4 linked regions of the Homo sapiens genome follow. The protein of the gene in region 3 binds, or shares a complex with, the protein of the main gene of each other region. Links are inferred from orthologs where the notes say so. Each region holds a gene or a part of one and is shown on either strand. Other genes may lie near its edges. The genes, in order: MLPH, RAB11A, MYO5A and SPIRE2.

Region 1 (4,817 bases), on a different chromosome or scaffold from region 3:
ACTTGGGAGGCTGAGGCAGAAGAATCACTTGAACCCGAGGCAGAGGTTGCAGTTAAGCCAAGATTGCGCCACAGCACTCCAGCCTGGGTGACAGAGCAAGACTTTGTCTCAAAAAAAAAAAAAAGAAAGAACAAAAAAGAAAAGAAAGTCAAGGAAATGCGAAGACCACACACCAGTGCAGTGTGATGGGCCTTTCTGCTGCTTCATTAGTGTGAGGATTTCCAGGGCCACAGTGAGGAAGAATGTTAATGCCAGTGCCAGAGCAAAGGAGAAAGAAGTTGGCAAAACTGTTGATTTGCATGACAGCTGAAATGTAAATACTTTTTAAAAAATATGTGATGTGGAAGCTTCTTAAAAGGGGATATGTCCATTTTTTTCTACCTTTTAAATTTCTGAGGAGGCCAAGGCACTTGTTTGGGCTAAGTATGTGATTGATAAAGCACCATCCCTCTTCCTGTTTTCCCCAAAGGTAAAGATGATGATTCTTTTGATCGGAAATCAGTGTACCGAGGCTCGCTGACACAGAGAAACCCCAACGCGAGGAAAGGAATGGCCAGCCACACCTTCGCGGTAAAGTTTTCTCTCATTCTCTGAGGAGTTTTTAAAGTTCAGTGACCCGTCAGATTTATGTATTAAAATTAAGTCTTCAGAGCAAAGAAAATGGAGATAAACAAAACAAAGATTCAGACCTGAGAATCAAAGCAAAAAGTAAAGTAAAATCTTTGCCAACGAGGGCTTGAAAATCTAAATACTTTGAAATTAGAATAATATCTTGTGTTTTAGAGCTTTAAATTTTCAAATATCTGCTGTCCACACACCCCATTGGAGGAGGACCTGTGTCACTAACCCAAATTTGTAGCTGAGAAAACAGAGGCAGAGAGAGGTTAAGTAAAAAACCCCAAGAGAGTTCACCTAATATTGTGAAGAAAGCAAACCCAGGGTTTCACTAACTTGTCCATGTGTGTATGTGTGTGGCTGCGTTCACCCCTGTGTGTGTGTGTACTGTGTGCATGCCTGTGTGTTTGTGCACACCCATGTGTATGTACCTGCATACACACCCAAGTGTGTGTGTTACCACAACGAAAGCGCAGATTTATTGAAAAGAAAGTGCACTCCACAGAGTGGGAGCAGGCTAGAGCCAGTGGCTCAGGAGCCTGGTTACAGCATTTTCTGGAGTTTAAGTGCCCTCCAGAGTTTTCCCATTGGTTACTTGGTTATACTCTATGCAGATGAAGGAGTGGCCCCAACCAATGTGATCAGTCGCAGGAGGCAACCAATCAGAGGCTGAAGGGAAGTTACAAAGTTACACATGAAGACTTGGCCGATGACCAGTCTGGTTGGTTGCGGGAGGGGACCAATCCGAGGTACTTTCCATTTTCATCTGAGATGCAGTGGAAAGGGGGTATAGCAAAGGGAGTAGCTGCTGAACCTTTTGTTCCTCAGGCATGGAGAGGTGGGGTTTTCATTTTGATTCAGTTCTAGGAAGTCAGCACGAATTGGCCTTAGGTTCCCTGCCTCCAGACCCTATTCTCTTGCCTCACATGCATGTGTGCACAAACGTGTAATCTAAATTTGTGTCTACAGATGTGCACATCCATGTACACACCTGTGTATTTGTATGTGCATGCCCATGTGTGTCTGTGTTACATGCCTGTGTATGTGTGTGCTTATATGTGCATGTGTGTTTGTACTTTACAGAAACCTGTGGTGGCCCACCAGTCCTAACGGGACAGGACAGAGAGACAGAGCAGCCCTGCACTGTTTTCCCTCCACCACAGCCATCCTGTCCCTCATTGGCTCTGTGCTTTCCACTATACACAGTCACCGTCCCAATGAGAAACAAGAAGGAGCACCCTCCACATGGACTCCCACCTGCAAGTGGACAGCGACATTCAGTCCTGCACTGCTCACCTGGGTTTACTGATGACTCCTGGCTGCCCCACCATCCTCTCTGATCTGTGAGAAACAGCTAAGCTGCTGTGACTTCCCTTTAGGACAATGTTGTGTAAATCTTTGAAGGACACACCGAAGACCTTTATACTGTGATCTTTTACCCCTTTCACTCTTGGCTTTCTTATGTTGCTTTCATGAATGGAATGGAAAAAAGATGACTCAGTTAAGGCACCAGCCATATGTGTATTCTTGATGGTCTATATCGGGGTGTGAGCAGATGTTTGCGTATTTCTTGTGGGTGTGACTGGATATTAGACATCCGGACAAGTGACTGAACTAATGATCTGCTGAATAATGAAGGAGGAATAGACACCCCAGTCCCCACCCTACGTGCACCCGCTCTGCAAGTTCCCATGTGATCTGTAGACCAGGGGAAATTACACTGCGGTCAAGGGCAGAGCCTGCACATGACAGCAAGTGAGCATTTGATAGATGCTCAGATGCTAGTGCAGAGAGCCTGCTGGGAGACGAAGAGACAGCAGGCAGAGCTCCAGATGGGCAAGGAAGAGGCTTGGTTCTAGCCTGGCTCTGCCCCTCACTGCAGTGGATCCAGTGGGGCAGAGGACAGAGGGTCACAACCAATGAGGGATGTCTGCCAAGGATGGGGGTGCAGAGGCCACAGGAGTCAGCTTGCCACTCGCCCATTGGTTACATAGATGATCTCTCAGACAGGCTGGGACTCAGAGTTATTTCCTAGTATCGGTGTGCCCCATCCAGTTTTAAGTGGAGCCCTCCAAGACTCTCCAGAGCTGCCTTTGAACATCCTAACAGTAATCACATCTCACCCTCCCTGAGGTTCACTTTAGACAGGACCCAATGGCTGCACTGCCTTTGTCAGAGGGGGTGCTGAGAGGAGTGGCTTCTTTTAGAATCAAACAGTAGAGACAAGAGTCAAGCCTTGTGTCTTCAAGCATTGACCAAGTTAAGTGTTTCCTTCCCTCTCTCAATAAGACACTTCCAGGAGCTTTCCAATCTCTCACTTAAAACTAAGGTTTGAATCTCAAAGTGTTGCTGGGAGGCTGATACTCCTGCAACTTCAGGAGACCTGTGAGCACACATTAGCAGCTGTTTCTCTGACTCCTTGTGGCATCAGATAAAAACGTGGGAGTTTTTCCATATAATTCCCAGCCTTACTTATAAATTCTATTCTTTGAAAAAATTATTCAGGCTAGGTAAGGTGGCTCATACCTATAATCCCAGCCCTTTGAGAGGCCAAGGTGGGAGAATTGCTTGAGGCCAGGAGTTTGAGACCTCCTGGGCAACATAGTGAGATCCCATCTCTACAAAAAACAAAACAAAAAAATTACCCAAGCATGATGGTATATGCCTGTAGTCGTACCTACTTACTTAGGAGGCTGAGGCAGGAGGATCACTTGAGCCCTGGAGGTTGGGGCTGCAGTGAGCCATGATCGCATCACTATACTCGAGCCTGGGCAACAGAGTGAGACCTTGTCTCTTAAAAAAATTAATAATAAATAAATGAAAATAATTCTTCAGAGTTCCTTTCCTAGCAGATGGCTATTCTGGAGATGTGTAGTGGAAGCTGCATACAGGCAGGTCAGGGATCCCTGAGGCTAGTGTACCCCAACCAGTACAGCTGCTGGCTCTTTGTTTCCAGCTAAAGATTGACAGAAGTCAGTGGTTTCTCTATGACTCCAGAGGGAGATTAGAGACAAGCATTTAAAATATTTCTCCAAAGTTTTATCCTCCAACAGTCTTATTTATAAGGGGAAAAAGAAAAAATTTTAGGAAGCGTTGAATGCACAGATCTCCCAAAGATGCTTCTTACAAATGAGCTATGAGTGTGCAGCAAAATTGCACTCCCCAGATAATCCAGTATCCAACATATTGCAATATAGCACCCAGATCACCAAGGGATACCTTGCCTCACTGCAGATTATTGGGGTGAAACACAATTTGACAGGTGTAGCTCCCAGCTCTCAGGGATCAAACCAACCATGCATTACAGTGTTGCAGTTTCACTGATTTTATGTCAAGCCATTGTTTCTGTAAGTTCCAAGGATTTTCACTTTCCAACAGCTCTATCCAAAAGAACCCACTTTACTGGGGGCCAAAAACCCATCCCCAAAAGAGTAATAGTAATGGTATTGTCACTTGCTGGGCTTCTGAGAGCCCAGCTAAAGCTCCACTTTAGCATGCTGGTGACAGCCAAGTAATCCTCACATATTCACAATGCTCATAACTTCAAAGTTATTCTTATAGAGAATATTTATTACATATGAATTTTTTTTATTTTATTGGGATAAAACAGAAAAGATAGATATGCAAAAGAAAAAAAATACATAAAAAAAGAATCATCTACCCACTAGCAACCACTGCTAAGTCCTTGCAGACATTGGTTCACGTATTAGCTTTTAATAAAACTCCCACAAGTTAATATACTAGTAGGTGAGTAAAGCCCATTCCAAACATGACCGCACACCTATATCTTCCCAGGAAAGAGCCAGCCCCAGAAATAAGTATTTTACCCATGTATGCTACCCATATTCCCCTGAAAATATCTACAGCAAAGTCTTCCCAGAGACAGCCTTGCTGTCTAAATGAACAAACTGCTCAGTTATTTCCAATGAACACACCTGCAGCTCAATGGCATCTGGGCTCAGAGTTCCAAGGACATGGCCATGCTGGGGAAAGGAGTATTTTGCTACATCACCACAGACACTTGTAACAGTCTATGATTGTTAATTTTATGGATCAAATTGGCTCAGCTGTGGTGCCCAGATGTCTGATCAAACACCAGCCAAGATGTATCTATGCAGGTATTCTGTAGCTGTGATTAAGGTTTAAATCAGTAGACTTTAAAGCAGATAACCTGCCATAAAGTGGGTGGGCCTTCCCCAGCC
Region 2 (7,440 bases), about 13 Mb from region 3:
TGCACTCCAACCTGGGAAACAAGAGCGAAATACCATCTCAAAAAAAAAAAAAAAAAGTAGAAATCCTCCTTAGCAGAATTTTTAACACCCTATCTTAAACAGCAAAATGCACAACAAAATGAAACCATAACCCATGGAAACATAAAATGCATTCGAAGTTCCTAGTTTTATTTTCTTTAATAATATTTAAATGCTCTTGTAGTTGAACCTACATTTAAGGTTCAAAAAACTGACAAAGGCCAGGCACAGTGGCTCACGCCTATAATCCCAGCACTTGGGGAGGCTGAGGAAGGTGGATTGCTTAAGTCCAGGAGTGCGAGACCAGCCTGGGCAACATGGCAAAACCCTGTCTTTACAAAAAAACAAAAAACTAGCCGGGCGTGGTGGCGCGCTCCTGTAGTCTCAGCTACTCCTAGGAGCTAGAGAGTAGCTAGGGAGGCTGAGGTCGGGGGGTCACCTGAGCCTGAGGAGGCCGAGACTGCAGTGAGCCTTGATTGTGCCACTGCACTCCAGCCTGGGGGACAGAGCGAGACCCTGTCTCCAAAAAAAAAAAAAAAAAAAAAAAAAAAAACTGACAAAACCACAGTAACTTCTTTCACATTATTACCATTTATTGAGTCCTCATGGTTAAAATTTTACGAACAGTCTCATTATTTAATTCTCACAATCTTAAGAGGCAGGTATTTTCCTTTTTATAAAGTAGAGAACTGAGACTCAGAAAAGTTAACTTTTCCAAGGTCATAAAGTAAATATAAGACCTGAGTCAGGATCTAAACCGAGGTCTACGTGATTCCAAAGCTCAGTGCTCTCAATTGTTGCTAGAAGGATGGTCTAATCAAAAAGTTAAAATACTTTAGGCCAATTCAGAATATTTAATATTCTTTGTTAAAAAATAAAAGGACCTTGTATAACCAACATTCAAGTTCAAACCAAACAGGAGAAATACCCTGACGGTCTATCTTGTTCTGAATTAATTACTTCAAAGACAACCTTTATAAAAGCACACTACCATTATACCATATTTCAAAACACAAACCTAACCTTTAACCCCAAAGTCTCAAGAGATTCAAATAGTTTCACATCATCTCAGATACCTTCGGCAAAAGGTATGCTGTCATATACTTTTTGTAATCCAGGCCTCAGTTTTGTATTTGTAAAATGAACTAAGTACCCTGAAAGTACTTTCCAGTATGGAGGGGGAGGGTGGATACCAAAAGTATTCACCCTATACAGTAGAATATTCTGAGTCAGAGGAGTAAGAGATGATAAGAGTATAACAGCAGACTAGTTAGTATAACAAGATTTGCAAAGTATTGGGAAAGCAAAGAAATCTTTCCTGCTTGGTTTAGTCAATCATTCTTAGCACCCAATGGCAAAGACAGAAACAGTCACCATGCTTAACACTCTTGAAACTCCACCCTCCACAGTAAAGCTTTAATAGCAATGGCTTCTTCCTCAGTGGTAATGATCTTTGTTCGGCACACTACTGATGGCTACCTTCCCAATTCAGGAGCAGAGAAAGAGCATCAGAGTGAGAGTGCATTCACTGAACAAAAAAAGCATCTACTGTACTCTCTTCTCATTGAAAAATGTACCCTTTATCTTCGTTGATTAAAAAAAAAAACCGGATTCCTTCCGGACTCAACCAATAAGCAATTCTTTCTAACCAACCCTGACCCTCCAATATGTTCTGTCCAAGGGCACTACATGTTTCCGTATCTTATAATAAATATTTAATGTAACCAAAAGAGCACACAACTTCCTCCCACCCCCAACCTTTTGGGAAAGGTATGTGGCTAACTAGGGCTCTTCCCTTCCTGTTGGATCCTCCCAGCGTTGCAGCAGGAAGCAACCAGTTCATAGAGATAAAGCAAGCTAGTATTTGTGCAGCGCACAACCTTTCCTGCTCAGGAACCAGGCCTTCAGGTCTGGCAAGGATAACAGCCACCACCCATCCGCAACCTCATCTCGCGAACCGAGTAAAGAGTTATCCCGGGTTGGGTGCCACTGAGTAGGGAGGGCAAGAAAAGAAAAGGCTAGGTGGGAAGTAATGTCAGCCTGCCGGGTCACTGCGACAAGTGCGCGAGTGGGTGATGGGCGATCCCTCTTACCCTCCCTCCCACCACCCAGGTCGCAACGGAGACAAGGGAGCTCTAAACACGATTTGGGGAGGGAAGGTAGAGAGAGTTGCCAAATGGGGAGTGGGAGAGGGAGCGGTCAGAGAAGGTTAAGGACCGCGAGAACCGCGGGGCGGAGGGTGGGGGCGGAGGCCCTTGGCCCGCTCAGATTTTACGGGGTCCTGGACCCGGGATGGGAGAAGCTTAGAGGGGCGGCCGTCCAAGTGGAGGGGAGATACAGAAGAGACGCTCGCTCGAGGGGGGAAAGAGGGCAGATAAGAAAAAGACCTGTAATGGGAGTCTGCACCGAAGGCAAGGCCAAGAGGGAAGCGAAGAACCCGTCAGAGGGGCTTCGGGAGAGGACGCGAGCTGGGAAGGGTGTACGCCGAGGGGGAGGGGGCGCTACACCCGAAAAGAGAGATGGTGGGAGGAGCGGCGGGGCCGTAGAACCCGGGGAAAGGAATTCGACGATGTGGGAGAAGGCAGTCCGCCAGGGGAAGGACACGCAGGGAGGGGCTCTGAGGCCAGCGAAGGCCTATGGAGAGGTCGCTCAGAGAGCGGCATGTGATGGGGACCCCTGTCTGAGCGGGGGAGAAGAGGCTGAGCTGGGTAGGAGACGGAACCGCACAAAAAGGAAGGGCTGAGGGAGGCCTATATCAGTGCAGGGGTGGCCGGCACGAGGGTCCACCGGGAGTGGCCCGGGTCCCCGAACGAGGACTGTGTAGAGTGCGAGAGCCCATGGCCTCACCTTTAAAGAGGTAGTCGTACTCGTCGTCGCGGGTGCCCATTGCGCGGCCGAGGAGCGAAAGGGCGGGAGCAGCAGTGGTATCTGTGGGACCAGGGGGCGTCGCTGCAGGGGTAACCCGAGCGCCGAGCTTCAACTGCCGGACTGGGTGAAGAGCCCCTCCCTGCCGCTGCGCCATTTCCGGCAGGCCCCAGCCTTTAAGGGGAAGTACTTCCGGGGGCGGCGCCCCGCCCCTGAGCCCAACAAGGGCGGTGTGCGCGAGAGTCGAGATGCGTGGGGCTTCAAGCTTTAGTCGCTAAAGGAGGCTCAAAGGGGAAACTGAGTCCTGGAACTCCTAGCTACCATAGTCTTAGTGGCCGCTTGCTCATTTCTCGAGCTACCGTGCCGGAAGCGGCTCGCTGGAACCAGGCGGGACCGCCTGTGAGTGGTGGGTTTGTGGATGGGGGCGGGGTTCTCTGAGGATTAGACAGCCGAAGGCAGCTACACATGCGTGGCGGTTCCATGGTGTAATGGTTAGCACTCTGGACTCTGAATCCAGCGATCCGAGTTCAAATCTCGGTGGAACCTGCATTGGTTTTTGTTTTTTTAATCTTGACAACATCTTTAATTCACTTTTTTGGTCACTAAGTAATTGAACAACTATGACACATCTTAAGATGGAGATGTAAAATTTAATCCTTGCCTATGAAGACCTCACAAATTTCCCACTGCATTTCAGGTGCTATCTGCTACCTGGCGGGGGGTTGTCTTAATGAGCTTCTTCACTGCCTTTTTTTTAACCCTGGGCTTTCAAGCCTTGATTCAAAAGCTTCAGTGAAACTTGAAAATTCCTTTTGCTGGAATTTTCTACCTCCAGCTTCATGCACGGGTAGGCGCTTGTCACTCACTCCTCTCCGGAAATCTCGCAATCTATCTCATTTTCATTTAGAGTACTTCGCCCACCCTCCTCATCAAGATTCATCAAGAACTTGAGTCCTATTTGTAGGCCTCTAATCTAAGTCCGTTTACATAAGTATTTCATTTAACATGCCAAGCAAAGGATGGTAATTTCCATTTTAGCGGAAGTTTGGATACTAAGACTCAAGTGATTTGCCAGATATCATGTCGCAGGGCCTCCCTGTATTTGAAGAGAATTTTGTCATTCCAGAAAAGCCTTTATCCAATTATTGTCACACCTCCTACCTCCTATATGCAAACTCTCGATTTAGACTTGTGGGCAAGTATGCCTATAACAAGCAGAATAATGCCCCCTGCCAATGATGTCCACTTCCCAATTCCTGGAGACTGAATAGGTTAGGTTACATGGCAAAGGGGAATTGAGGTTACAGATGAAATTAAGGTTGCTTATCAGCTGACATTAAATTAGGGATATTATCCTGGATTAGTTGGGTGGGCCCAGTGTTGTCATAAGGTCCTTAAAAGTAGAAAATGGGCTGGGCACGGTGGCTCAGGCCTTAATTCCAGCACTTTGGGAGGCCAAGGTGGGTGGATCACCTGAGGTCAAGAGTTCAAGACCAGCCTGGCCAACAAGGTGAAACCCTGTCGCTACTAAAATACAAAAAATTAGTCTGGCGTGGTGGTGGGTGCCTGTAGTCCCAGCTACTCTGGAGGCTTAGGCATGAGAATTGCTGGAACCCGGGAAGCGGAGGTTGCAGTGAGCTGATACCACGCCACTGCACTCCAGCCTGGGCAACAGAGAGAGACTCGTTCTCAAAAAAAAAAAAAAAAAAGTGGAAAATGGAGGCAGAAGAGGTCAGAGTGATGTGACTTGAAAAGACCTCAATCTGCCCTTGCTGGCTTTGAAGATGGAGGAAAGGGCCCAGGAGCCTAGGAATCTGGAGGCTTCTAGAAGCTGGGAAAGGCATGGAAACAGATTCTTCCATAAGGCCCCCAGAAGGAACACAGCCCTGCTGACAACTTGATTTTAGCCCAATGAGACACTTGTCAGACCTGTGACCTACAGAACTTTAAGCAATAAATTTGTGTTGTTTTATGTCACCAAGTTTGTGGTAATTTGTTATAGAAGCAATAGAAAACAAATACAGTGCCAATTTCCGTGCTTTCTCTACTGCTATAAAGTGATAGTAAGTTTATCTAAGGTCCTGTAATCCCAGCTACTCAGGAGGCTGAGGCAGGAGAATTGCTTGAACCAAGGAGATGGAGGTTGCAGAGAGCCGAGATTGCGCCACTGCACTCCAGCCTGGTGACAGAGTAAGACTCCTCAAAAAAAAAAAAAAGAACACTAATGTTTAATTTAGTCTCAAGCATGACTAATAAAAATGGTGTGTTGGTTAATACTGAGTGTCAGCTTGATTGAATTGAAGGATCCAAAGTATTGATCCTGGTTGTGTCTGTGAGGGTGTTCCCAAAGCAGAAACAGTTGAGTCAATGGGCTGGGAAAGGCAGACCCACCCTTAATCCGGGTGGGCACCATCTAATCAGCTGCCAGCGAATATAAAGCAGGCAGAAAAATATGAAAAGGCTAAACTGGCTTAGCCTCCCAGCCTACATCTTTCTCCCGTGCTGGATGTTTCCTGCCCTCGAACATTGGACTGCAAGTTCTTCAGCTTTGAGACTCGCACTGGCTTCCTTGCCTCTCAGCTTGCAGAAGGCCTATTGTAGGACCTTGTGATCATGTGACTTAATACTACTTAATAAATTGCCCTTTATATATGTGTCTATCCTATTAGTTCTGTTCCTCTAGAGAACCCTGACTAGTACAGTTGGTAAGAAAATCAAAAGGAACTCTCTAGTAAAAAGCCTGGAATTATAAATTTAGAAATGCCTAGCCTTAGACTATGGGGGAGAAGCAAGACCTGAAATATATCTCACCCTCCACATCTGGGGAGGTAACTTTACATGTTTGTTAAAAACAAAGTGAGGACTGATAAGTCTGTGTTTATACTTCAGCTCAGCCATTCACTAAAGCTGTGTCAATTTCAATAATTTAATCCTGCTGAATCCCAGTTTCTTACCTGCAAAATGGGGACAAACAGGAAGAAGGAATTAAGTAACAATGTATAGCTGTTAATATCATGCATGGCATATAATAAATATTTATGAATGCATTGATTTTCTTTTCTCTTTTTTTTTGAGTCAGGGTCTTGCTGCGTCACCCAGGCTGGAGTGCAGTAGTGCGATGTCAGCTCACGGCAACCTCCATATGCTGGGCTCAAGCAATTCTCCCACCTCCACCTCCACCTCCCAAGCAGCTGGGACTACAGGTGTGCGCCATCGCACCTGGCTAATTTTTGTATTATTTGTAGAGATGGGGTTTTGCCATCTTTGCCCAGGCTGTTCTTGAACTCCTGAGCTCAAGCGATCCTCCCACCTCAGCCTCCAAAAGTGCTGAGATTACAGGAATAAGCCACTGCACCTGGCCAAATGCAATGATTTTCAACGGGTCAATTTGGTCCCCAGAGACATTTGATAATATCTGGAGACATTTTTAGTGTCACTACTTGGGAGTGCTACTGGTATCTAGTAGAGACCAGGGATACTGCTAAACGTTCTACAACACACAGGATAGCACTCCCATCAAAAAGAATTATCTGGCCCAAAATGTTAATAGTTACCAAAGTTGAGAACCATGAGTTATTATTTTAAGAATTAGCCAGATGCGAGGCCAGAGCCTATGATGGGAAAGGGGCAGGGTGCCATGATCCTCACCTCCCTGTCCTAGCTCATTTGAAGAAAGCGAACTCACTCCCTAGGTCTCAGGAAGAATGCCCAGGGACAGACGTTCCTCCCGTCAGTATCCCATAAAGCAGAGCCTGGGGGCCACCGGCCTGACACAGAAAGCTTCCATAGTGGCTTCCATTTGTTAAATAAACCTATCACTCTTCTATTTCTTTCTTTTTTCTTATTTTTTTCAAGATGGAGTCTCTCTTTATCGCCCAGGCTGGAGTGCAGTGGTACTAACTCGGCTCACTGCAACCTCTGCCTGCCAGGTTCAAGTGATTATCCTGCCTCAGCCTTCTGAGTAGCTGGCATTACAGGCATGCACCACCACACCGGGCTAATTTTTGTATTTTTGTAGAGACAGGGTTTCACCATGTTGGCCAGGCTGATCTCAAACTCCTGACCTCAAGTGATCCACCCACCTCGGCCTCCCAAAGTGCTGAGATTACAGGTGTGAGCCACCGCGCCCGGCCTCAGTGTTCTATTTCTTAACTCAAAGGATTTTTACAGGGTTGTTCCCTTTATAACTGTGTGTTAAACTCTACATACCAGTTTTATGCACTTTTGTAATAGTATTAGGTTTATTTCACAATACAATTTTTAGATGGGGCATGGTGGCTTGTGCCTGGGAGGCCAAGGTAGGAGTATCACTTGATGCCAGGAGTTCAAGACCAGCCTAGGCAACCTAGCGAGACCCCCCCTATCTCTACAAAAAATGGAGAAATTAGCCAGACATGATGGCACCTATGTACCTATAGTCCCAGCTACTCAGGAGGCTGAGGTGGGAGGATCACTTGAGCCGAGGAGTTCAAGGTTACAATGAGCCATGATCATACCACCACACTGCAACCTGGGCAACAGAGCAAGACTCTGTCTCCAAAAAAAAAACAAAAATGT
Region 3 (9,245 bases):
TGGGCACATAATGAGACCCCGTCTTTACAAAAAAATTTAAAAATTAGCTAGACATGGTGGTGTGTACCTGTAGTCCTAGCTACTTGGGAGGCTGAGGCAGGAGGATCACTTGAGCCCAGGAGTTTGAGGCTGTAGTGAGCCGTGATTGCACTGCTGTACTTTAGCCTGGGTGACAGGGTGAGAATCTGTCCTAAAACAAAAAACAAAAAAAAAAAACCCTCTCCCTACACACACACACGTTTCTCACAAATCTTTATGTTTACTACCTCAAAATTTCTCCCTCCCACTCAGAAAATCTTCCATCCCATTTCATTCTGATCCCTGTTTTGCTTTGCTCTCCTTAGCATTTTTATATTCTTAATTACCTTTATATCATTTACATGTGCTAAAATATTAGTAACTATCTTTAATCAAACAAACTTTTATCTCTGCAACAGATTGCAAGTTCATCAGAAGCATCAACATTTTCCTGATGCTTTTGCTATTTCAATGCTAAACCAACTCATCTGTAAAATGAACATGATACCACATGAAAATAAATGATAATTTTGATAGAGCATTGCCAAGTACAAAATACAGTATGCCTGGTTCAAGCTGGTGTTTGAAAAATAAGTAACATACAATATGACTCTTGGTCATAAAGGTTTGAAGCATTAGTAGATCTCTGTTCTCAAAAATAATTTCCTGCCAGGCATGGTAGCTCATGCTTGTAATCCCAGTACTTTGGGAGGCTGAGGCAGGAGGATTGCTTGAGGCAACAGCCTGGCAACATGAGACCCTGTTTCTACAAAATAAAAAAATTAGCTGGGTGTGGTAGTACGTGCCTGTAGTCCCATATACTCAGAAGGCTGTGGTGGGAAGATCACTTGAGCCCAGCAGGTTGAGGCTGCAGTGAGCTGTGACCATGCCACTGAACTCTAGCCTGGGCGACAGAGTGAGACCCTGTCTCAAATAATAGTAATAATAATAATAATAATAATAATAATAATAATAATAATAATAACTTCCTGCCTTAGTTTTTGCAATTGTGATCCACCTTATGAGTTCATAAGTACTTCCATGCCCATTATGGAAATAAATACGGTCATAATTTTACTTTTTACTAAGACCGAAGGGTAAAGTCAAAGAAAAACAATATTGAAAATAATCCTGGTGGATTTCTTCAGGCATACTCCACTCTCAGGGCCCCTTTGTGAAACACACCTGCTCATCAACTTTGCGCTGCAGCTGCATGATCTTGTTCTCCATGCCGATGTGCAGCTTCTTATAGCGCTCCACTGAGCGAGCCTCGATTTTGAGCTTCTTTAGCTCACGCTTGGCCATCATCCGCCTGAAGCAGCACTGAAGGTAGATGATGGCATGCATGCTCCTCTTGTAGTGTGTGCGGGCCAGCCAGCCCCGGACTCGCTTCTGAATGATGACTGCTTTGTGCTCACGGAGTATCTGCAGAAAAGGATAAGGGCAAGCAATGTCAAGACCCTGGACTACACTCATGATTATCAATCTATGTCGGGCTGAAAATCCACACATTACCTAGAGGAAAAGACATAAAAGTTGAATTGACAATGTACTATGTAGATTATACTTATCACAGATATATGGAGGCTACAAAATTATTTTTAAAAGTGATTTGAAAAGTAGACTTTAGAAGGTGATTTCAGAAACATACATAAAAATGTGTCATATGCACATATTATGTGTATAATTCTAAGCAGAATATAGAGTTGGAAGCTGTCTAAATAAAAAGCACCAGATTACCAAAAGAAAAACAACTATAAAAAGAAAGAAAAAATACATTAGGTTTCTTATTAGTATATGATTTCTGTTGGCAACAGATGATCCTCTATAAAATTAACAGAACCAGGCATCCTGTAAACTATGTGCTACTAAAATAAGAGATATCCCCACCACCCTGACTGCTGATACCACCTCACTATGCATTATTAGGCCCGTGCATGAGGACACGGGGTATGGGCAGCAAACTGTCTGTAGAGGCCAACACTTGGGGTACTAAAAAGTTTGTACTGATTTATTGATTTTTTTTTTTTTTAGAAACTAAAAGATGACACTCTTGTTTACCACATTTGAGGAATACCATTCTAGTGAGGATTTTCCATTGCTATTTCAAATGTAGCAAGGATCCACTTTTGGGATTCAAAGGTAGGAGGGATGGGGCTTTAAAATGAAAGGTAAAAGTAAAAAGATGTGAAACAAACTAATCTTACTTTTGATTTTATGTTACATTTCCTAAAAAAAAATGATATTTCCCTAAACTTATAAACAAACAAAAGTTTGCCTTATTAGATGAATTTGTTGTCGCTAAAGAGCACCAAAAAGACACCGTGTAAACATTTTCTAGGAAAGATGGAGAAGAAATTCTTGAATTTTAAGAAGAGGTAGCCAGGCACAGTGACTGGATAAATAAAACTATTAATGCCAATTTTCCTGTTCCATTTGCTTCTCCCATGTAACTTTGGACATGGGTCCATTTTTGTAATTTTAGTCAAATGGAAACAGCATTTAATCAGAGCTTCCATTTTCAATCTCACTTTCATCATGAGTGAGAGAAATTAATCAACACCTGTACTCTCTTTAAGACCCCCCCACTCCAAATCTCATGAAGGGGAACCTTGGACCTGAAATACAGCTAGAAGGAGCACTAATGTGATGGCTGTTGGCTTACATGTGAGCAAGCCTCTACGCTACCACCTTCCACCCTGTCCAGTCACAGTGGGAGCCTGAGCTGGCCGGAGGCTGCCACTGCTAAACCAGTGACCTCAAAACCCAGCTCAGATGTTCCTAAGGAAAGTAGTGAGGAACACAGGAAGGTAACTAGTTTGGTGTATCTGAAAAGCAACTTCAAACCTCTTTCCTCCCTAAAATCTCACGCTTATATAGAAAGAGCATGAGACTACATAAAGGAGGGGTGAGCAGAAAGATCTGGAGTAGCTATCTTCAAAACACAGCTATTAAATACACTCATTCAAGCCTCACCAGTTTCGAATTTTTTGTTGTCTAAAATCACTTCAAATAAAAATAAATAAATAAATAAATAAATAAATAAATAGGGCCTAGGTCACACCCATATACTGTCTGTGCTTAGAGACCCAAATCACCCCATTAATGCTCCTTCTAATGGTGATGTCCATAGAGCTCTAATATCCAGGCTTGTATTTCTCACTGATTTGAAATATAGCCTGTAGGATAGACTCCAAACCTTGCCAAAATGAAAGAGATAAAAATCGTTCATCAATGGTCACAGGTGATAATTAAGACTACTCTGGTGACCCCATTAATTATTGCTAGATGTAAGATTATTTGTCAAAAACTTTTGGAGCATTGTATCTGTCAATACAATTTTAACCACATTAATGTTATAATTTGCCTCCTCTTCACCATGGTAAATTCTTCCAAGGTTGTCTCATTCTTGGAATAACCTTTAACCTGTTTGTCATATATTCTATCTATTCAAAGTTCTCTGTAGTCATCTGAATAGGGGGCCCCAAGGAAATTAGGTGCTAATCCCTGGAACCTGCAAATGCTATTTATTCAGAAAAAGGGCCTTTGCAGATGTGATTAGGTTAAGGGTCTTCAGATGGGAGGATTATCCTGGATCACATGGGTGGAACCAAATGCTATCATAATTATTCTTATAAGAGGCAGATAGGAGAAGTCAAGTCAGATACACAGAAGAGAAAATGCTGTGAAAACAGAGGCTGAGACTGGACTGATGTGGCTACAAGCACAGGAATGCTGGCAGCCACCAGAAGCTGCAAGAGGCAAGGAATGGATTCTCCCCTGGAGCTTCTGGAAGGAGAGCAGCCTGCTGACAACTTGATTTTGTCCCATTGATAATGATTTTGGACTTCTGGTCTCCAGAACTCTGAGAGAATTAATTTTGGCTGTTTTAAGGTAACAAGTTTGTGATAATTTATTATAGCAGCCACAGTAAACTAACATACTTTTTTTTTCAAATTATATAAACAAAGAGAAAGAAGGAGGTAAAAGTTTTTTTCCCATTGTTTTGTTAATAACTGTATGTGATTATTTAGTATTTTAAAATGCATTTCAGGCTGGGCATGTGCACAATGGCTCATACCTATAATCTCAGCACTTTGGGAAGCCACAGTGGGAAGACTGCTTGAGGCCAGGAGTTTGAGGCTGCAGTGTACTATGACTGCACCACTGCACCCCAGCCAGGGTGACAGAGCGAGATCCTATTTCTAAAAAAGAATTTTTTAAAATAAATAAATATGCATTTCAATAGCTGGTTGTCCCCATACAGTTCCTACCTTCATTGTAGCCCCTGTGGTACTCTGTATAGATGTGAAATTTGGTTAATGCTAATAGAATGAATAAACAAAGTTGAAAATAATGCCTCACCTTGCGATACCTATTTCTGGCCAAGAAGCCTCGCAAGTAAGACTGAAGAACGATAGTGGCAGCTCGTCTAATCTTGTACCTCCTGCGGACCACATACATGCGCCAGTACTTTTGAATGATGGTTGCTGCCTTGGTTCTGCGCAGAAACTTAGCATAGCTGGCCAAAGAAAATAACATTATGTTGTCAGTAATCAGAAAAAAATGCAGGAATACATATTAGAGAAACTTAAAGAGTGTCACTGTTTTAGGCATAAATAGTACCTCCATTGTATTATTCTAATAATGTGCATGCTAAGTCAACATTTATATTTACTTACATTTGTATAGCAATTTATAGTTTCCCAAAGTATTTTTGCATTTATTATCTCATTTGAGCCCTCCCTAACTCTGGAAAGTAGGATGGCCCACATTGCCAGATTTTACAAGAAAGCAAAATTCACAAAAATTCATTCTTTCTACAACAGGATCCATTTACCCCAGGCCATGCCTCTTTATAGAACAGACAGACATACACAGTAATCTCATACTTAGTTATCACCAGCTTTCTTGGATCTAGCCATTATTCATCTACCATATTTTTCCTGATTTTGTTAGGCTATAAGCTCATGATTAATTCAGTTCTACTTATACTTCTCAATTAAAATTAAACTAATAAGTAATCACACTAAAGTGTAATTCTCTTCCAGACCCTCTCAGTTAATTGCTCCCAAAAATTATACAATGAAGTCATTATTACCTAGCTCATATTCACGACTGTTTTAATTGATACATGATTTCCTCAAGCCCAATATAAAAGTATCAAAAATAAAAATTTTGAGGACATAAGTAAGCAGCAGTTTGTAAATGTTTTGAAGATAAATCTGAATCATTCATAAGGCTGAGTGAAATTTTATTCTATTTAGCTGTCCTATGAGTTAATTTGTTGTCCCTTGGAACTAAGAAAAGGTGAGGTGTTATCTTTTCAGCTATGGTGACCAGTCAAAACTGTCCTTGGTTGGACAGTGAATTAGATGGGCACTCTACTCTGTCCCCAGGAGACCTACCATCGGGCCTGGTAGCCCCGCACGTATCTCTGCATGGTGATGGCTGCCTTCCGCATGCGTAGGTACTTCTTTCTCAGCAGCCACCCTCGGATGGTCTTCTGGATCCGGATGCAGGCAGCTCTCAGTTTGTCAGCTCTCAATTTTTCTAGATAGGCCACTTGACCGGCACGGAAAAAGATCTTTGTCTTACCAAACTGGTATTTGTCCTTGTCCTATTTTTGGAAGAAATTGTATATTCAGAAATAATAATCATATAAGTGAAATTTAAAAGAAAAAATGTCTAAAAGCAGAATCAGTAAAGGAATGACTCTATTAGCTAAAACTTGGGCTACATCACAATTAACTAATGGAGCCAGATTTTTAATCCTATGCAAGTTGAGCAAATAGAAGGGATTTTAAGAAAAACTGCAGTTTAAGAGTTATTTTCCAGAATTATTCTACCTGGAATTATTATCTGAGGCCCAAAACTTGGTTGTGGGTTATAGGCAGTTATTATTTGCTTGTTTGTGTTTTAAACATCTCAAGGAAATGGAGATGCTGACTCTCTCTGACTGACCCAGGTTGTAAGGATTACAGCGGGCTGTATATTCCATGAGAAGCTGAAGGGACAAAAACACCAGTGTGAAGAATAAGGCAGGAAGAAACGTTTATGAAATAAAATTCAAAAACCAAAAACCAAAATCCTTGGGTATTCATATTGAGTTATGTTTCTAAACAGTTAGCTCTTGGCTTTATCAATAATATCTGAAAACAAACTAACAAAACCCCATAAATATGTTTAAAATCCTACAAATTGGCCGGGTGTAGTGGCTCACGTGTGTAATCCTAGCACTTCGGGAGGTCAAGGCTGGCGGATCATGAGGTCAGGAGATCGAGAACATCCTGGCCAACATGGTGAAACCCTGTCTCTATTAAAATACAAAAAATTAGCCGGGCATGGTGGCATGCACCTGTATTCCCAACTACTTGGGAGGCTGAGGCAGGGGAATTGCTTGAACCCAGGAGGTGGAGGTTGCAGTGAGCCAAGATCGCGCCACTGCACTCCAGCCTAGCAACAGAGCAAGAATCCGTCTCAAAAAAAAAAAATCCTTTCAAACTCCTTTTACAAAAACATAATAATTTATATTACATTGTGATTCACCTTATCTAGAAGTATGCAAATCATTAATCATTCTTGCATCAAAGAATGGAATTTATATGTAAGAATCATTACTGTGACCTGGAATTCTTTTTTTTTTTTTTTGAGATGAGTCTCGCTCTGTCTCCCAAGCTGGAGTACAGTGCTGTAATCTCGGCTCACTGCAGCCTCCGCCTTCTGGGTTCAAGCGACACTCCTGCCTCAGCCCCCTGAGTAGCTGGGATTACAGGTAAACACCACTACGTCCAGCTAATTTTTGTATTTTTAGTGGAGACAGGGTTTCACCATATTGGCCAGGGTGGCCTCAAACGCTGGGCCTCAAGCAGTCCGCCCGCCACGGCCTCCAAAAGTGCTGGGATTAAGGGCGTGAGCCACCATGCTTGGCCATGTGATCTGAAAGTCTAAGGGAAAACAGAGAAAATCATTTTTCCCTATGAGTAGATATCTCATATTATCTCATATATGAAACCAAAAAATCTGACACATCCACATATATCTAAAAAATCTACAATTATTTCAATTTAAATCAATAAAGTTTACATTGGAAACCTAGCTAGAAAAGTGGTCCTTACCCGCATCCCGCTTCACACCTCACACCAACCCTGCCTCCATCTTTCAGCCTCCTCTGCCTAACTAAATTCCCACAAAGCCCTGATCCAGGCCTGAAATGGCCTGGGTGAGAGGACCAGGAATAGGCCTGTTCCTACTTTCTGCTCTACATTCCCACCTGAACACAGGTTAGAAGGGGATTGGGCAGGCTGGGCGCAGTGGCTCACACCTGTAATCCCAGCACTTTGGGAGGCCGAGGCGGGCAGATCACGAGGTCAGGAGTTCAAGACCAGCCTGGCCAACATGGTAAAACCCTGTTTCTACTAAAAATACAAAAATTAGCTGGGTGTGGTGGTGTGCACCTATAATCCCAGCTACTGGGGGGGCTGAGGTAGGAGAATGGCTTGAACCCACGAGGCGGAGGTTGCAGTGAGCCGAGATGCCACTGTACTCCAGCCTGGGTGAAAGAGCAAGACTGTCTCAAAAAAAAAAAAAAAAGAAGGGAATTGGGGCAAACTCAAAAAGCCCCAGTTAAAAAAAAAAAAAAAGCATTGCTGAGGAAGTGGCCTTAGCTCTTTCAAGGAAAAAATATTATTAACAAAAAAAAGGCATCACATTTAGTTCACAGCTAGTAATTATGATCAATTAGCTCAAAGTGAGGTACTCCATCTAGGATAGTGTTAACCAAGTGAAAATATTATTTTAAAAACTTTTCATGAATCTTTAATTCTCTAAGACCAAGATCAGTAGTTCTCAAAATATAGTCCTCAGACAGCATCGGCATCACCCGGGAAATACAAATTCTTGGGCCCAACCTCAGACCTACTGAATCAGAAATTCTGATGGCGGGGCCCAGCAATCTGTATTTTAACAAGCATTCCAGGTCACAGTAAAGTTGGAGAACTCTTTAGCCTGGTCTGCAAGACTCTCTGTAACACCAACCTACATTTCCTAACCATTTCTCTACTGTCCCATACACAAATCTCACACTGCAAAAAACTGTTTTCTGAGCAAACCCTATGCTTACCCTGCTCTTACTCCCTCTTATAATAGTCTCCTTCCATTTTTGCATAACCTTACCCATTCTCAGGGCCTGACTCAAAACACACCTCTTTGATGAAATCTCTCCTTCCCATAGCTGGACGTCGCTTTGTCATCCCCTGATTTCTTGTTCCATTCATTCAGCATTTGATATAGACACTACAGTTAAATATTATACTCGTCTTTAAAAAGTATTACTTTCCAAGTAAGACTATATTACCTGAGAACAAGCTTTATTTTTTCTTAATCACACAGCATTTGGCCTGGTGTCTTCTAGATGTAAGTACTAGGTACACTTTTATCAATAATAATCAAGCTGTCTAAGAAGAATGTGTTTCAAATGTGGGTCCAGGCCTCACAGCTCTGCCTCCTGACGGTGGACTATCATCCTCGCTAGTTCCAGCATCCTAAACACAGTAGTGTGCCCCTCTCTGATCCCACCCCGAAATGATCTGGACTAGTAAAATGTTATACAAAAGTTCCCGGGGCTTTCCAAGGTCAGAACCACAAGGCCTTCTGCTCAGATGACGGTAAGCGAAATCATTCTCACCAGTATCAGTTTCTCTAACACATTCTTGCATGTTTGCTTTCTGTCACTCAGCACATCTTTCTGCTTCATTAGGACACGGTAGCGGCTGAAAAATTCTTGGTAAGTCCACCTATTAAAAGAAAACCATCTGAGTTTACTTAAAGAACTAGGATCTTCTCCCATTAGGATCCCTTACATCTGAAAAATGCCAGGCTCACCGTGAGGGGAAACCGGCCGCACTGATTCGGATGGTTTCCAGGACACCACATGCTCTCAGCTGCTGCACTGCCCTCTTCTCATCAAACCTACAAATAAAAATCAAAGCTGTTAGTCCACAAAGAACCTGGCTGGTGGCCACAAATTACTCTCCTCAGTCAGGGTGTAAATTCTTTCGTAAGAGCAAAATGGATAAATCAGAAAAGAAAGCTTTCAGAAGTCGGAGCAGTGATCAAAATGGAAAACTATGAGAGAATGGGGAGGAGATGATAAGCAGTAAAAATAAAGAGCTGTAAACATTACCTGCAACTCAAACCACAAACTCATAAGAGTGTGCTGGGCGAGG
Region 4 (7,590 bases), on a different chromosome or scaffold from region 3:
GTGTTTGGATTTCCTGGACCCCAGCTGACAGGAGTATTTTCTCCCGCAGGCCCATCAGTTACAAGTCCTGTCCCTTCTGACCTCCAGGCCCCACGGCTAGCATTACAGCCTGGAGTCAAAGTTCTGGGTGAGCTGTGTATCTTTGGCCAAATTCTTTGACCTCGTTGAGCCTCAGTTCCCTCATCTGTAAGGTAAGATGACGGCAGAACGTCACGGAGGAGCAGGGCAGGGCCCCGTTAACAGGCTGAGCCGGGCGCAGGTGAGCAGACAGCACTCGGCACAGGGCCTGTCTAGAGCCTGCAGTCACACCTCCTGCCCCTGTGGATCCTCTCCCTGGAGAACGAGAATACGGATCTGGGAAATGAGACCAAAGTACCCCCCAGGCCAGCAGGTGTGGCCAGAGGAGCTGATGGGCAGTAGTCTGTGCCGTCCGCATGCAGCCCTGACCATGGTGGCCAGGACCACGAAGCTGGTAGAGGCAGCCAGGGCTGCGTGGACAGAGCAGGCCTGGAGCCCTTGCCTGGTGGGCACCTGACTCTAAGCCAGGAGGCCTTTCCTCGTCCTGGAAGGCAGGTGGCCCCTCAAGCCCAGCTTCAACCTTGGGAGAACATGCCATGCTGGGTGAATCCTCAGCGCACATCCCAGACAGAAGACTGTGAGACCTCCTTTATTAGGCCAAGAGTGGCCATGTGCACAGATTTACAGAGCTGCTCCTCCCTGTGCCAGGACCGCCCAGCATCTTCAGGAGCCTCTGGGCCAGGGGCGAGTGAGGACAGCACCAGAATGTGGTAGGGCCAGGAGAGGCAGGACACATGTGGTTTGGACCCCAGGGAAAGGGAAAGGGCAAGGGCAGGGAGCAGCTTGGCACGGACCTTTTTTTTTTTCGAGACAGAGTCTCGCTCTGTCGCCCAGGCTGGAGTGCAGTGGTGCAATCTCGGCTCACTGCAACCTACACCTCCCGGGTTCAAGCGATTCTCCTGCCTCAGCCTCCCCTGTAGCTGGGATTACAGGTTCCTGCCACTATACCTGGCTAATTTTTGCATTTTCAGTAGAGACAACATTTCATCATGTTGGCCAGGCTGGTCTCAAACTCCTGACCTCAGGTGATCCTCCCTCCTCGGCCTCCCAAAGTGCTGGAATTACAGGCCTGAACCACCACGCCTGGCCAGACCTTTCAAACAGGTGGGGGTGCCTCCCAGGAGGACCCTGCCTACTCAGAGACTTCCCAGATGCCTCTGCTGCCTGAGTCCCCACAAAGGGAGAGCAGAGGCAAGCAGGGCACTCTGGTCCAGCTGGGAGCCAAGATACCCTGTCCCCACCTAGACGTCCACTGGGGAAGGGAAACTGCCGTTCGCATTCCTGGGGACGGAGAAGAGCATGGGAACATGGGATGCAGTCTGTGCCAGGATCTAGAACCTTCTGCTTTCTCTCTTCAGTGAGAAAACCCACCCTGTTCCCTCCCCTTCCTCCCTGGCAAGGAATCCTGAGAAGAAACAGCCTCCCCCAGGGAGGGTTTTGAAGTGCGCCTGAACCCAAATGAGCTCTGGGGCCAGGAAACAGTGTATATAAATATATAGACTGTGTGTATATATTATAAATGTATCTATATATGTATATATGTACATGCACAGCTCAGAGCGTCCTAGCCTGATACAGGGCCTGCCTGGTGCCTCCTGGAGGCCTGGCCACCTGGGGCTGTCACTTGAAGTCAAGAGTCCTGGTGTTAGGGATGTAGAGGGATTGGGTCTGGCGACTGCGTCGTGGCGTAGTGTTGAGGACGTCCACGCTCTTGCGGCTGGAACGCACCACGTCTGCCACAAAGCTGGTGCACTCACTGCAGACATCCTTCAGGACACAGCCGTGGGAGTAGATGTGGGGGAACGCCTCCTCCACGCTCTGCCACTGTGGCCCTTGCAGAGACCTGGGAAGTGGGAGAGGGCACTCAGGGAGAGGAGCCAGCCAGGGTGCCACACCCCCCTCCCTGCTTGTGCATGCCACAGCCCCCTCCTGGCTGCCTTTCACCCTAGGCCTCCCCTTGGCCCTCAGGCAACAAACACAGCTAGCAGTGTTCATCTCAGCAGACTGTTCCCTGACCACCCAAGTCCAGTTTCCATCTCATACTGCTCAGCCTCCCAGAGCCCTACACAACGATCCGTCTCTGCCTTGCATTTCCATTTCCTTGGGGTGTCCTAGCAAACAGACAAAGCCAGCCCCCTCCACCCCAGCTCCCAAGTTCCTCTTCACGCCCGACCACCACAGTGACATCAGCAGCAAGGCGAAGAACGCACTGAAAGATGTCTCTTCTCTGGATTGGCGCGGTTTTGGCAGCTGATACCCTCTGAGGACTCTCAAAGCCCAGTGTGTAGACAGGGATGTGTCCAAATTTCTTAGAAGGCATCTTCATCTGCAGCACAGAGGGAGGAGGTATGAACCAGGCACCACCAGAGACATTCAGGTACACTCAGTGCTAGGGGACCTCCCTCCCCAGTCTGGGACCTGCGTGGCAGCCAGGGCTTCCTGGAGAATATTCTCTGTCCCTGTGCTCTCCGATGTCTCCTCTGTGCCTTTTGGCTGAAGACTGGCACGGGGTTCCTGCTTGCTGCACATCTGGACAGGGGCTTCTTAGAGCGCAAGAACCGTCCCTTTTTATACCATGCGGGACCTGCCACGTTTCCTGCTCATCTGGACAGGGGCTCCTTAGAGGGCAAGAACTTTCCCTTTTTATACTATACGGGACCTGCCACCTTACCCTGCACATAATCAACATTTAACATGGATGAGGTGGAAGTTTTTCCATTGCCAAGTGGCAGGATGTAGAGTAAGATTTAAAAATAGTGGTAGTAAGAGTACTCCTTAAGCAGAGTTTTGCTTCTGAACTGAGGCCTGAGGGGTAACATATATATATATATATATATATTTTTTTTTTTTTTTTTTTTTTTAAGACACAGATCTTGCTCTATTGCCCAGGCTGGAGTACAGAGGCACAGCCATACTCACTGCAGCCTTGAATTTGCTGGGCTCAAGAGATCCTCCCACCTCAGCCTCCCAAAGTGCAGGAACTGCAGGCATGAGCCACCGCGCCTGGCTGGTGACATACTTTTATTTGTATTTTGTCTTTTTGAGACGGAGTCTCTGTCACCCAGGCTGTAGTGCAGTGGCACAATCATAGCTCACTGTGGCCTCCACCTCCCGGGTTCAAGTAATTCTCATGCCTCAGCCTCCTGAGTAGCTAGGATTACAGGTGCGTGCCACCATGCCCAGCTAATTTTTTTGTATTTTTAGTAGAGATGGGGTTTCACCATGTTGGCCAGGCTGGTCTCAAGTGGTCCGCCAGCCTCACTGGCCTCCCAAAATGCTGGGATTACAGGTGTGAGCCACCGTGCCCAGCTGACATACTTTTAAATGTTAGGATCCCTTTACCTCTGTGCACCTGCACATAAGCACACACCTCAACTGCAATAAGAAGCCCCTCCTAAAACACCCAAAAAGTTATAGAATGTAAGAAGGTAGGACTTTTAGAGGGGAAGTGAAGGGTTTTTTGGCACGAGGCTACTAACGTGCAATGTTTAAAAACAAAAACCTGTAAGGGTCTTTAAAAACTGCACACTATCTTGGAAAGTATAGGAATGGATTCTGCCTGAAAGGAAATGGATGAGGTGCCTGGTGAGGCAGCATCATCCAACACATCCAATCAAAGCCAGTGGAGCCCCTCATCTGCCTTGCTCAGACCCCAGAGATCCCACATGGTCCTCACCTTTATGCTACAGGAAGTGCAGACGGCTCTGGAAGGGAACAGAGGAAATGCAGCATCAGCAGGGAGGAAGCCCACAAACAGCTGAGAAACAGTCGCATCCCGGCCTCCACGCATCCGAGGTCAAACCATCCTTGCCTTCTGCCTGATGCTTGGTTACTTCAGTACTTTATTTTACTCCAAAATCTTGCTTTTCTTTATACTTAGGTATCCACCCAAAATATATGTGCTCCTTGGCATTCTCTCAGGAAGGATGGCTCCAGGAGTTTTCTCCTGCCAAGTTTTCTATTGCCAAGTGGTAGGATATAGAGTAAGGTTTAAACATAGTGGTGGTGGGCCAGATGTGGTAGCTTACGCCTGTAATCCCAGCACTTTGGGAGGCCAAGGCAAGTGGATCACCTGAGGTCAGGGGTTTGAGACAAGCCTGACCAACAAGGTGAAACCTCGTTTCTACTAAAAATACAAAAATGAGTTGGGCGTGGCAGCAGGCACCTGTAATCACAGCTACTTGGGGGGCTGAGATAGGAGAATGGCATGAACCTGGGAAGTGGAGGTTGCAGTGAGCTGAGATCACGCCACTGCACTCCAGCCTGGGGGACTGAGCGAAACTCTGTCTCAAAAAAAAAAAAAAATGGTGGTAAAAGTCCCTCTTAAGCAGATTTTTGTTTCTGAACCAAGGCATGATGGGTCTTTCTGAACCAAGCCATGATGGGTCACATACTTTTGGAAAGTTTAAAAACAAAAACCTACAAGGGTCTTTAAAAACTGCACACTGTCGGCCAGGCGCGATGCCTCACGCCTGTAATCCCAGCACTTTGGGAGGCCAAGGCAGGTGGATCACGAGGTCAGGTGTTCAACATCGGCCTGGCCAAGATGGTGAAACCCCGTCTCTACTAAAAATACAAAAAATTAGCCGGGCATGGTGGCGGGCACCTGTAATCCCAGCTACTCGGGAGGCTGAGGCAGAGAATTGCTTGAACCCAGGAGGCGGAAGTTGCAGTGAGCCGAGATCATGGCACTGCACCGCAGCCTGGGTGACAGAGAGAGACTCTGTCTCAAAAAAAACAAAAAGCAAACAACAACAACAACAAAAAACAAAAAAAAAACTTGCACACTGTCTTGGAAAGACATCTAAGATTCCTTCTAAGAAGACGTGTAGACATTGGTGTGTACCTGACACTACTCACCATAAAAGCACCATGGAAGCTAGAGGGGCCTCAACTGAGATGCTCAGTTTTAAACAGTGATTCAATTTTGTTTTAATTCCCATATCTGATTTCAAAAATAAATACCTTCTTATAAAAAATTCAAGGCTGGGCGCGGTGGCTCAAGCCTGTAATCCCAGCACTTTGGGAGACCGAGATGGGCAGATCACGAGGTCAGGAGATCGAGACCATCCTGGCTAACATGGTGAAACCCCGTCTCTACTAGAAATGCAAACAAATTAGCCAGGCCTGGTGGCGGGCACCTGTAGTTCCAGCTACTCGGGAGGCTGAGGCAGGAGAATGGCGTGAACCCGGGAGGTGGAGCTTGCAGTGAGCCGAGATTGTGCCACTGCACTCCAGCCTGGGTGACAGAGTGAGATTCCATCTCAAAAAAGAAAAAAGAAAAAAAAAAAAATTCAAGGCTGGGCGTGGTGGCTCACCGCTGTAATCCCAGCACTTTGGGAGGCCAAGGTGGGCGATCACCTGAGGTCGGGAGTTGGAGATCAACCTGACCAACATGGAGAAACCCCATCTCTACTAAAAATACGAAATTAGCAAGTGTGGTGGCACATGCCTGTAATGCCAGCTACTCAGGAGGCTGAGGCAGGAGAATCACTTGAACCTGGGAGGCAGAGGTTGCAGTGAGCTGAGATCGCGGCATTGCACTTCCGACTGGGCAACAAGAGTGAAACTCTATCTCAAAAAAATAAAAAAAAAAAATTCAAACATGAGAGAATTAAAATGTAGACACCACATGCTCAGAAGTGATCCCTGCTAGTAATGGTTTCCATCCTCCAGGCTTTTCCAAGCATATATCAACAGAAATATACATAATTTTACAGATAAAATTAGGTGATTTTTTTTTCCCAGACAGGTCTTGCTCTGTCACCCAGGCTGGAGTGCAGTGACACCGTCATAGCTCACTGCAGCCTTGACCTCCTTGGCTCAAGTGATCCTCCCACCTCAGCCTCCCAAAGTGCTGGGATTATAGGCATGAGCTACCATATCCACCATATCCAGCCTTACCTTTTTTTTTTTTTTTTTTTTTTGAGACAGTCTCCCTCTGTTGCCCAGTCTGGAGTGCAGTGGCGCGATCTCGGCTCACTGCACCCTCCACCTCACAGGTTCAAGCAGTTCTCCTGCCTCAGCCTCCCGAGTAGCTGGGACTACAGGCACCCGCCACCACGCCCAGCTAATTTTTTGTATTTTTAGTAGAGACAGGGTTTCATCGTGTTAGCCAGGATGGTCTCGATCTCCCGACCTCGTGATCTGCCAGCGTTGGCCTCCCAAAGTGCTGGGATCAAGGTGTGAGCCACCGCGCCCGGCCCAGCCTTACTTTTTTATTCAGTCTGGGAAATTCTAACTTTTACTTGGGTCGTGTGGATGACTTACAGTTAATGTGATGCGAGATACAGTTGTGTTTAAGGCTGTCATTTGCTATTTGTTTTGTTTTTGACTCATTTGTTTGTTCTCCTTCTTTTCCTACCTTTTTTTGGATTAATTACTGTTTATGGTCCCATCTTATCTCCTTTGTTGGCTTATTAGCTGTAACTGTTTTATTTTAGTGGTTGCTTTAGGACTTATGGTATACATCTTTAACTTATCACAGTCTACCTTTAAGTAATATTTGTATAGCGTGTATAATACCTTACTATACCTTATCATAGTGATTCACCTTACCATAGTGAACCTTAAAATAGTATACTTCTGGCCAGGCGCGGTGGCTTACGCCTGTAATCCCAACACTTTGGGAGGCAGAGGTGGGCAGATCCTGAGGTCAGGGGATCGAGACCATCCTGGCTAACATGGTGAAACCCCATCTCTACTAAAAATACAAAAAATTAGCTGGGAGTGGTAGCAGGTGCCTGTAGACCCAGCTACTCGGGAAGCTGAGGCAGGAGAATGGTGGGAACTCAGGAGGCGGAGCTTACAGTGAGCCAAGATCGTGCCACTGCACTCCAGCCTGGGCGCCAGAGCGAGACTCCTTCTCAAAAAAAAAAAAAAAAAAAAGGAAAAAAAGTATACTTCCAATTTTCCCCTCTCCCTGACCTTCATGCTAACTGCTGTTATCAACACTACTTACACACGTGTTACAAAACCCACAATACATTGTAATTAATTTTGTCTTGTTTTTTGCATGCCACACATTTTATCTTGCTGAGTACTGGTTTGTTTTTTTGTTGATGTTTAAAAAATTCTTATTCTTGAGCTTTGTTCTCAGAATCAGTTAAGATACTTGTGAACAGTTTGATCCTTTCAGGTCTTGCTTTTATGATGTATCAGTCAGGCCTAGAGCAACAATCACTTTGGGCTACTTACTCCACGTTAGTGAGGCGAGTCCTTTGTGTGCATTCCAGTTAGTGCCCTGTGAATTATGACATTTCTGCCTGTGGCCGGTGGAAACCGATGTTACTCATTCCTGCCCCTGAGCACCGTCCCTTCAGATCTTTAGAACAAGGGAAGGTAAATTTTTTGTGTAAAGGGCCAGAGAATAAACCTTTTAGGCGTGGCTGAGCGAGTAATAAATGGGTGTGGCTGTGTCCAGTGAGATTTTACTTGCAAAACAGGCCGAGGACCAGATTTGGCCCGTGGCTATAGTCTGCCAATCTCTGCTTTAGGATAAATGTTCTGCAG

Evidence for each region.
Region 1: the proteins of MYO5A (region 3) and MLPH are in contact, whole or in part, in a crystal structure (PDB 4KP3), measured with the Mus musculus proteins. The link is inferred for Homo sapiens from one-to-one orthologs. Residues at the interface, in NP_034994.2 of Mus musculus: Asp1524, Val1527, Arg1528, Leu1531, Thr1532, Ile1535, Asn1536, Lys1539, Ser1570, Gly1571, Leu1588, Thr1589, Asn1590, Phe1591, Asp1592, Leu1593, Ala1594, Glu1595, Tyr1596, Val1599; in NP_443748.2 of Mus musculus: Lys184, Lys186, Arg187, Leu188, Leu189, Ser190, Phe191, Arg192, Asp195, Phe196, Glu197.
Region 2: the proteins of MYO5A (region 3) and RAB11A are in contact, whole or in part, in a crystal structure (PDB 5JCZ), measured with the Homo sapiens proteins. Residues at the interface, in NP_001369276.1 of Homo sapiens: Ile1660, Gln1661, Trp1738, Met1742, Arg1745, Tyr1746, Ser1749, Gln1750, Glu1753, Arg1756, Gln1777, Gln1780, Val1781, Lys1782, Lys1784, Met1795, Glu1818; in NP_004654.1 of Homo sapiens: Arg33, Glu35, Ile44, Gly45, Val46, Glu47, Phe48, Ala49, Thr50, Gln63, Trp65, Gln70, Tyr73, Ala75, Ile76, Ala79, Arg82.
Region 4: the proteins of MYO5A (region 3) and SPIRE2 are in contact, whole or in part, in a crystal structure (PDB 5JCY), measured with the Homo sapiens proteins. Residues at the interface, in NP_001369276.1 of Homo sapiens: Asp1551, Val1554, Arg1555, Thr1559, Ile1562, Asn1563, Lys1566, Ser1597, Gly1598, Leu1615, Thr1616, Asn1617, Phe1618, Asp1619, Leu1620, Ala1621, Glu1622, Tyr1623, Val1626, Asp1629, Leu1630, Gln1633; in NP_115827.1 of Homo sapiens: Arg404, Pro405, Arg406, Val407, Leu408, Leu409, Lys410, Ala411, Pro412, Thr413, Leu414, Met417, Glu418, Met420.

What each region holds. Positions count from the first base shown.
Region 1 is NC_000002.12:237,551,868-237,556,684, forward strand, and holds the end of MLPH (melanophilin), read left to right. Parts: intron 1-469; coding exon 470-570; intron 571-1,229; coding exon of another isoform or gene 1,230-1,256; exon of another isoform or gene 1,257-1,364; intron 1,365-1,698; coding exon 1,699-1,725; 3' UTR 1,726-3,455; downstream 3,456-4,817. UniProt on the Homo sapiens protein: Rab effector protein involved in melanosome transport. Serves as link between melanosome-bound RAB27A and the motor protein MYO5A.
Region 2 is NC_000015.10:65,865,051-65,872,490, reverse strand, and holds the start of RAB11A (ras-related protein Rab-11A), read right to left. Parts: upstream 3,001-7,440; 5' UTR 2,906-3,000; coding exon 2,866-2,905; intron 1-2,865. UniProt on the Homo sapiens protein: The small GTPases Rab are key regulators of intracellular membrane trafficking, from the formation of transport vesicles to their fusion with membranes.
Region 3 is NC_000015.10:52,370,921-52,380,165, forward strand, and holds part of MYO5A (unconventional myosin-Va), read right to left. Parts: intron 8,989-9,245; coding exon 8,902-8,988; intron 8,814-8,901; coding exon 8,705-8,813; intron 5,639-8,704; coding exon 5,427-5,638; intron 4,541-5,426; coding exon 4,384-4,540; intron 1,444-4,383; coding exon 1,204-1,443; intron 1-1,203. UniProt on the Homo sapiens protein: Processive actin-based motor that can move in large steps approximating the 36-nm pseudo-repeat of the actin filament. Can hydrolyze ATP in the presence of actin, which is essential for its function as a motor protein. Involved in melanosome transport.
Region 4 is NC_000016.10:89,864,381-89,871,970, reverse strand, and holds the end of SPIRE2 (protein spire homolog 2), read right to left. Parts: intron 3,783-7,590; coding exon 3,755-3,782; intron 2,405-3,754; coding exon 2,289-2,404; intron 1,922-2,288; coding exon 1,699-1,921; 3' UTR 652-1,698; downstream 1-651. UniProt on the Homo sapiens protein: Acts as an actin nucleation factor, remains associated with the slow-growing pointed end of the new filament.